Homo sapiens: one gene and its partner. The protein of the gene in region 1 purifies or fractionates together with the protein of each later gene. This does not show direct contact. Each region holds a gene or a part of one and is shown on either strand. Other genes may lie near its edges. The genes, in order: EML4 and NPHP4.

Evidence for each region.
Region 2: the proteins of EML4 (region 1) and NPHP4 purify together in Homo sapiens (co-immunoprecipitation; one large-scale study listed by IntAct). This does not show direct contact.

The regions. Positions count from the first base shown.
Region 1 is NC_000002.12:42,329,545-42,333,208, forward strand, and holds the end of EML4 (echinoderm microtubule-associated protein-like 4), read left to right. Parts: intron 1-189; coding exon 190-663; 3' UTR 664-3,004; downstream 3,005-3,664. UniProt on the Homo sapiens protein: Essential for the formation and stability of microtubules (MTs). Required for the organization of the mitotic spindle and for the proper attachment of kinetochores to MTs. Promotes the recruitment of NUDC to the mitotic spindle for mitotic progression.
Region 2 is NC_000001.11:5,908,881-5,912,696, reverse strand, and holds part of NPHP4 (nephrocystin-4), read left to right. Parts: intron 1-3,483; coding exon 3,484-3,545; intron 3,546-3,816. UniProt on the Homo sapiens protein: Involved in the organization of apical junctions; the function is proposed to implicate a NPHP1-4-8 module. Does not seem to be strictly required for ciliogenesis. Required for building functional cilia.

The DNA of each region.
Region 1 (3,664 bases):
CCTATGTAAAGTGATAATAAAAGGAAATAACGGCTAGCCTTACTCCTGAGATTTGATGACTTCTGGCTTTAAATTGGATTGCCCATTTCACAAGCTGAGTTTACCCCCCTTACGTATCACCTCCATTTCTGAAACAGGCATGTCAAGAATGAGTTTAATTTTCCTGTCTGTCTGATTTATTTCATATAGGCTCCCAGTCACAAGTACAGTGCCCACAGCAGCCATGTCACCAATGTCAGTTTTACTCACAATGACAGTCACCTGATATCAACTGGTGGAAAAGACATGAGCATCATTCAGTGGAAACTTGTGGAAAAGTTATCTTTGCCTCAGAATGAGACTGTAGCGGATACTACTCTAACCAAAGCCCCCGTCTCTTCCACTGAAAGTGTCATCCAATCTAATACTCCCACACCGCCTCCTTCTCAGCCCTTAAATGAGACAGCTGAAGAGGAAAGTAGAATAAGCAGTTCTCCCACACTTCTGGAGAACAGCCTGGAACAAACTGTGGAGCCAAGTGAAGACCACAGCGAGGAGGAGAGTGAAGAGGGCAGCGGAGACCTTGGTGAGCCTCTTTATGAAGAGCCATGCAACGAGATAAGCAAGGAGCAGGCCAAAGCCACCCTTCTGGAGGACCAGCAAGACCCTTCGCCCTCGTCCTAACACCCTGGCTTCAGTGCAACTCTTTTCCTTCAGCTGCATGTGATTTTGTGATAAAGTTCAGGTAACAGGATGGGCAGTGATGGAGAATCACTGTTGATTGAGATTTTGGTTTCCATGTGATTTGTTTTCTTCAATAGTCTTATTTTCAGTCTCTCAAATACAGCCAACTTAAAGTTTTAGTTTGGTGTTTATTGAAAATTAACCAAACTTAATACTAGGAGAAGACTGAATCATTAATGATGTCTCACAAATTACTGTGTACCTAAGTGGTGTGATGTAAATACTGGAAACAAAAACAGCAGTTGCATTGATTTTGAAAACAAACCCCCTTGTTATCTGAACATGTTTTCTTCAGGAACAACCAGAGGTATCACAAACACTGTTACTCATCTACTGGCTCAGACTGTACTACTTTTTTTTTTTTTTTTCCTGAAAAAGAAACCAGAAAAAAATGTACTCTTACTGAGATACCCTCTCACCCCAAATGTGTAATGGAAAATTTTTAATTAAGAAAAACTTCAGTTTTGCCAAGTGCAATGGTGTTGCCTTCTTTAAAAAATGCCGTTTTCTTACACTACCAGTGGATGTCCAGACATGCTCTTAGTCTACTAGAGAGGTGCTGCCTTTTCTAAGTCATAATGAGGAACAGTCCCTTAATTTCTTGTGTGCAACTCTGTTTTATCCTAGAACTAAGAGAGCATTGGTTTGTTAAAGAGCTTTCAATGTATATTAAAACCTTCAATACTCAGAAATGATGGATTCCTCCAAGGAGTCCTTTACTAGCCTAAACATTCTCAAATGTTTGAGATTCAAGTGAATGGAAGGAAAACCACATGCCTTTAAAACTAAACTGTAATAATTACCTGGCTAATTTCAGCTAAGCCTTCATCATAATTTGTTCCCTCAGTAATAGGAGAAATATAAATACAGTAAGTTTAGATTATTGAATTGGTGCTTGAAATTTATTGGTTTTGTTGTAATTTTATACAGATTATATGAGGGATAAGATACTCATCAAATTGCAAATTCTTTTTTTTACAGAAGTGTGGGTAACAGTCACAGCAGTTTTTTTTACCAACAGCATACTTAACAGACTTGCTGTGTAGCAGTTTTTTTCTGGTGGAGTTGCTGTAAGTCTTGTAAGTCTAATGTGGCTATCCTACTCTTTTGGGCAATGCATGTATTATGCATTGGAAAGGTATTTTTTTTAAGTTCTGTTGGCTAGCTATGGTTTTCAGTACATTTCCTACTTTAAGAGTAATTACTGACAAATATGTATTTCCTATATGTTTATACTTTGATTATAAAAAAGTATTTTGTTTTGATTTTTTAACTTGCTGCATTGTTTTGATACTTTCTATTTTTTTGGTCAAATCATGTTTAGAAACTTTGGATGAGTTAAGAAGTCTTAAGTATGCAGGCGTTTACGTGATTGTGCCATTCCAAAGTGCATCAGAACTGTCATTCCCTTCTAATATCTTCTCAGGAGTAATACAAATCAGGTATTTCATCATCATTTGGTAATATGAAAACTCCAGTGAACTCCCAAGGACATTTACAACATTTATATTCACACGCTGTATGGAAGGGTGTGGGTGTGTGTGAAGGGGCGAGTGGAGACACTGTGTGTATCTCTAGATAAGAAGATATGCACCACGTTGAAAATACTCAGTGTAGATCTCTATGTGTATAGGTATCTGTATATCTTTCCTTTTGTTTACAACTGTTAAAAAACCTCAAAATAGTTCTCTTCAAAAGAAGAGAGATTCCAAGCAACCCATCTTTCTTCAGTATGTATGTTCTGTACATACTTATCGGAGCGCGCCAGTAAGTATCAGGCATATATATCTGTCTGTTAGCAATGATTATTACATCATCAGATCAGCATGTGCTATACTCCCTGCAAGAAATATACTGACATGAACAGGCAGTTCTTGGAGAAGAAAGAGCATTTCTTTAAGTACCTGGGGAATACAGCTCTCAGTGATCAGCAGGGAGTTTATTTGAGGACATCAGTCACCTTTGGGGTTGCCATGTACAATGAGATTTATAATCATGATACTCTTCGGTGGTAGTTTCAAAAGACACTACTAATACGCAGGAAGCGTTCCAGCTATTTAATGCTGGCAACTACTGTTTAATGGTCAGTTAAATCTGTGATAATGGTTGGAAGTGGGTGGGGTTATGAAATTGTAGATGTTTTTAGAAAAACTTGTGAATGAAAATGAATCCAAGTGTTTCATGTGAAGATGTTGAGCCATTGCTATCATGCATTCCTGTCTCATGGCAGAAAATTTTGAAGATTAAAAAATAAAATAATCAAAATGTTTCCTCTTTCTAAGTGCGTCTTAACTCTTTCTTCATTTATACTGAGAGTTTCCATGACTATCCAGTTATCAGAAGGCATGACAATTCAGAAGACAACATTTATCAGTGGGCTACTGCTGCTGCTGTGGATAAAATCATTCTGGTAGTAACAAACTCCCATCTCATAATGTTAGAGGAAATTACTTCTGATTTATGCTCCCCCTGAATATGTGGATAGCTTTGTTTTCACTTATTTCATGTCAGCACTTTCTCTAATGTTTAATATTGGATAATCCTGATAATCTTCGTTACCCATCCGACTAGGCTGCCTCGCAGTGTTAGCCTTTGTGAAGTACTTGAACTCAGTAGGCCATGGCATTCTCTGCTTTCTCCCATCTCTCCCATGTTGCTTTTTAACGCAGATCTTCTGTATACCACAATCACAAATTGGCTACTACAAATGTTTCTTTATAAAGAATAGGTTGATTGATAGTATTCCAAACATTCCCCAGGTTTACAATCATAGAAATGATGGGGTTTTCATTATTGCCTTACTCGTCCCTGGTGACTGAATATTCACAGCCACTTACTTACATATACTAATCCATGAGAGGCTATCCTGGGGTAGGAGTTCCATTTTCACTGATTCTGAGACAGAATGGCTAGTGGGCACCAAAACAAACCCACTCAACAA
Region 2 (3,816 bases), on another chromosome or scaffold:
TAACATTTAATTTACTTTAAGTTTTATGGGCAATGTAGGAATACGCGTTTCCTAGCATGTCTCATGGGTGTGGTTACCACGAGTTTGCCAGCACACCCGTATACACTGTGGGTTTCTTTCATTTTTCTTTTTTCTTTTTTCTTTTTTTTTTTTTTTTTTGAGACGGAGTCTCACTGTGTTGCCCAGGCTGGAGTGCAGTGGCGCGATCTCGGCTCACCGAAAGCTCCGCCTCCCGGGTTCACGCCATTCTCCTGCCTCAGCCTCCTGAGTAGCTGGGACTACAGGTGCCCACCACCATACCCGGCTAATTTTTTGTATTTTTAGTAGAGATGGGGTTTCACCGTGTTAGCCAGGATGGTCTCGATCTCCTGACCTTGTGATCCACCCGCCTCGGCCTCCCAAAGTGCTGGGATTACAGGCGTGAGCCACCGTGCCCGGCCTATCGTCACTTTTTAACTTGCCGCGGCTGCCTTCCCAGTTCTGCACACACCGGCTGGTCTCCTCCCATCCCATTGCTCCCCTGCCCCACGCAGGATCTGCCGGGTTCTGCTGAGGTAGCTTCCATTTGCAGGAGCACCAGGATTGTGTCTAATGTTTTGCTGTTGTCGCAGCGCTGCCCCAGACAGCCTTGTGCTCGTCTGTCTGCTCACCGCAGCTGCTCCTACCTGTGTCCTGTGCACACGCATGCTGCTCCCGGTTCAGTTGCTGGCCCAGGTGCTTGTCAGCCAAGTCCTGTTATGTGGCGGAAGTCAGGCTTCCCAGACTCCACCGTGGTTTTTGGAAGACTCCTGGGGCCTGGAGTACAGCGGGTGCTCCCTGGCGGCCGCGCTGTCCTCTGGGCAGGACTATGAGTATAGTTTGGGAAGCACCTTAACCCATAACCACATCGAACATTAAAACAAAGAGATTCGAAACTGAGTTATTTCGTGGCCTTGGTGTGTCTCTTCCTGCTCTGCTTCACCGGTTGGATCTGAGTTTTGGGCCCTGGGGGTCTGGGCTTCCCACCAGGTATCTTTTTAAATGGCCACCTTTAATGGCCTTTTTAAATGGCCTTGTAGGTAGGTTTACTCTCTTGGAAGAAAAAATTGCATAAGTCATGATATAAAGAGTTACTTGAAAAAACTTTCCACACTGTATGCAAATTTGAGACGATGGGGAAATAAAATGCATGCGAGAAGTTCAGATGTGCTTGGAAGGTTTAACTTTTCATCCAGCTTTTCCTCCCCAAGAGGACGCACACAGGCACGGAGGGCTGGCCCCCGAGTGCCCGCTGTCTCTGCTGAAGATAATGGAGCCATTTCTGGCAATTTGTCCTCATTATCAAAATCAGCCTGCGGAGTTTTCCGAGTTCCCATTTACGGAGGAACGGCGTGGAGCTTCACTTACCACTCTGCTGTGTCATCTTTCAGGCTTTTTCTGGGAGGAGGTGGGCAGGGGTTTGCCGTACGGAGCTCTGAAATGGACTGTAAGAGGCACTCAGGGAATCTGGGGAGAGGCATCGGCTTTGAGGACAGCTGGGCCCCTGCAGAATCCTCATCTGCATTTTGCTTTTAGTGAGATGATATTTTCCTGGGGAAGCAGAGCTTGCTAGATCATTTGCTAACTCCCTCCGAGCACGTGAGCTCATTTATAGAAGGGCAGGTTCCTCTGACCAGAGTCTTTGTGCTCCTTGGAGCCACGTTACTGTGGCTGGTTACAGAGGAGCTGCGCGGGCCAAATGGGCGCTGCCCAGGAGGTAGTTGGACTGGGAGCTGTGCCCGCCAGGCTGGGCAGTTGGATCCTCTGAGGGTTGGGGGCTCCCTCTGGCCTTGCCCCAATGCCTTCCACCCATCCACAGGCCCTTAGCAGGGTTTCCACCAGATCCTGCAGCTGGGGAAGCACCTCCTTGGATGGGTTCTGGAAGCTGCTGGGAGAGGCACGGCGGGGATTGGCTCCGATGGTCGTGCAGCTCTGGTGTTAGGGCGGCACTTTCTGGATTTGGTTTCTCCTTGGTCGACAGCATTTTCCTTGTTGTTTTTGTTTTTTTGGGATTCAGAGCGGAACACGAAGTGGCTGAGCAGTCTCTATCCAGAGTGCCCAGCGTTTGACGTCACAGGCCTCTGTGCTGTGTGCTTGGTCCGTAGGTCCCGTAAGTGCCGGCCTGTGCTCTGTGCCATAGGAATTCAGGATACCAGGACATATAGGAGATTCGTTTGCCCAACCTTCATGGCAGCAGAGGCCACAGGAGAGGGAGGGAAGGCGAGCTGCTGGGCCCAAGATGTGGGCCACATGGGGGTGACGGGAGGTGGGACAGGGCCATGGGGGAAGCCTGATTTCTCCGGAGGTCTGGGTTATCCTGGAAGTCCGATGGGGAGTGGTAGTGTCTGCTGCAGTGGAGAGTCCTGTCACCGTGAAGGAGGCTGTCATGAGCCAGGTGGGGACAGGACATGGGCTGGAGACTGGGCTGTGGGCCTCAGGGAAGCCAGGCAGATGACTCAGTGTGCAGGGCTCCCACCCTGGCCTCTGAGTGGGCAGAGGTGGCCCCGTCAGGATGGGCTTGGGGTCTGGCTTGGTGGTTTCATGGTGGGCAAAGGCAAATGGCAGTGTATGTGAAATGACCGTAAGAGACGAGTGGCTATGGACGCTCCAGCACCGCTGTGGCAGGAGCCTGGTGGGTTTCAGAGACTCCAGCGATGCTGGGGCTTCCTCCTGCTGAGGTGCAGGGGCTGAGAGCCCTGGGTCTGCTGGGCCATGAGGTGTCCATGTGGCCTGGGGAGGGGTTGCAGAAGCAGCACAAATGCCAGCTGGGCTGAGGCGGGGCTGGGCAGGTACAGGTGGCCCTGGGAGGAGGCTGCTGGCTCTTTAGGCAGCCCCTGGATGCTTGGGAGGCAGCTGTGGCCTTATAAAGGGCCAAGGCAGTTCTCAGTCCCTGGCTCCAGGGGGACCCCATGAAGGGCTGGCCTTGCCTCCCCCAGGTGCGCCTCCCAGTGTTACCGGGCCTGCATGGAGAATCCTCAGCAGGACCTGGCGGACAGCTTGTGCTTAGTGGGTGTTCGTGAGGCCGCAAGCCAGGTTGGCAGTGTCTGCTCAGGAGCTTCTCGGTTAACAAAACAGCCGGAGTCAGGGAGCTGCAAGACTGGGGCAACCTCAGACCCCAGCTCTTCCGGGCAGGGAAGATGCAAAGATGACTAGTGAGGAGAAGCGTGTTAGGGAGCTCCAAGCACCCCAAGCTGTGAGACCTGCTGGCCCAGGAAGAACAGTGAGGACGAGGCCAGCTGTACCCCCTCTCCTGGCTGCTGGTGCATGCCAGGGCTCTAGATAGACAGCGACACTTTTGGGTGGCACCCTTGCTGCTGTTGCCCCTGAACGGTAACCAGCGGCTGCCCCTGTTACAGACAAGGTGGTGAGGCCTGTGGAGACCTGACTGCGTGGGGGTTCAGGGGCCCACTGCCCCCAACACAGGCTGACACATTCCCTCTCCTACCCCACTGTGCTTCCTCCCAGGCCCGCCAGCGCCAGTACCTCGAGTTCTCGCTGCCCCGCAGAACTCACCTGTGGGACCAGGGGTAAGTCCAGGCCCCCCACGGCCTCCTTCAGAATTCCAGAGTCAATTACTTGCAAGAAAACCCTCTGTCCCCCCTTAAGCACAGTGGATCCCTGCGTGCTTCTGCGTGGCTGGGGAGGGCCTGCTGGCGGCGGCGGGGCTGTCCCCTCCTACCCTGTCTGTGCAGCCTGTCCCTGATGTTCTGACTCCCAGTGCGGGCTTTTAGTGGGGCTGCTGCTTGCAACCCCTATGCTGCTGTATGGGGCGTCTCCACATCTCCCTGGCAGCTGCAT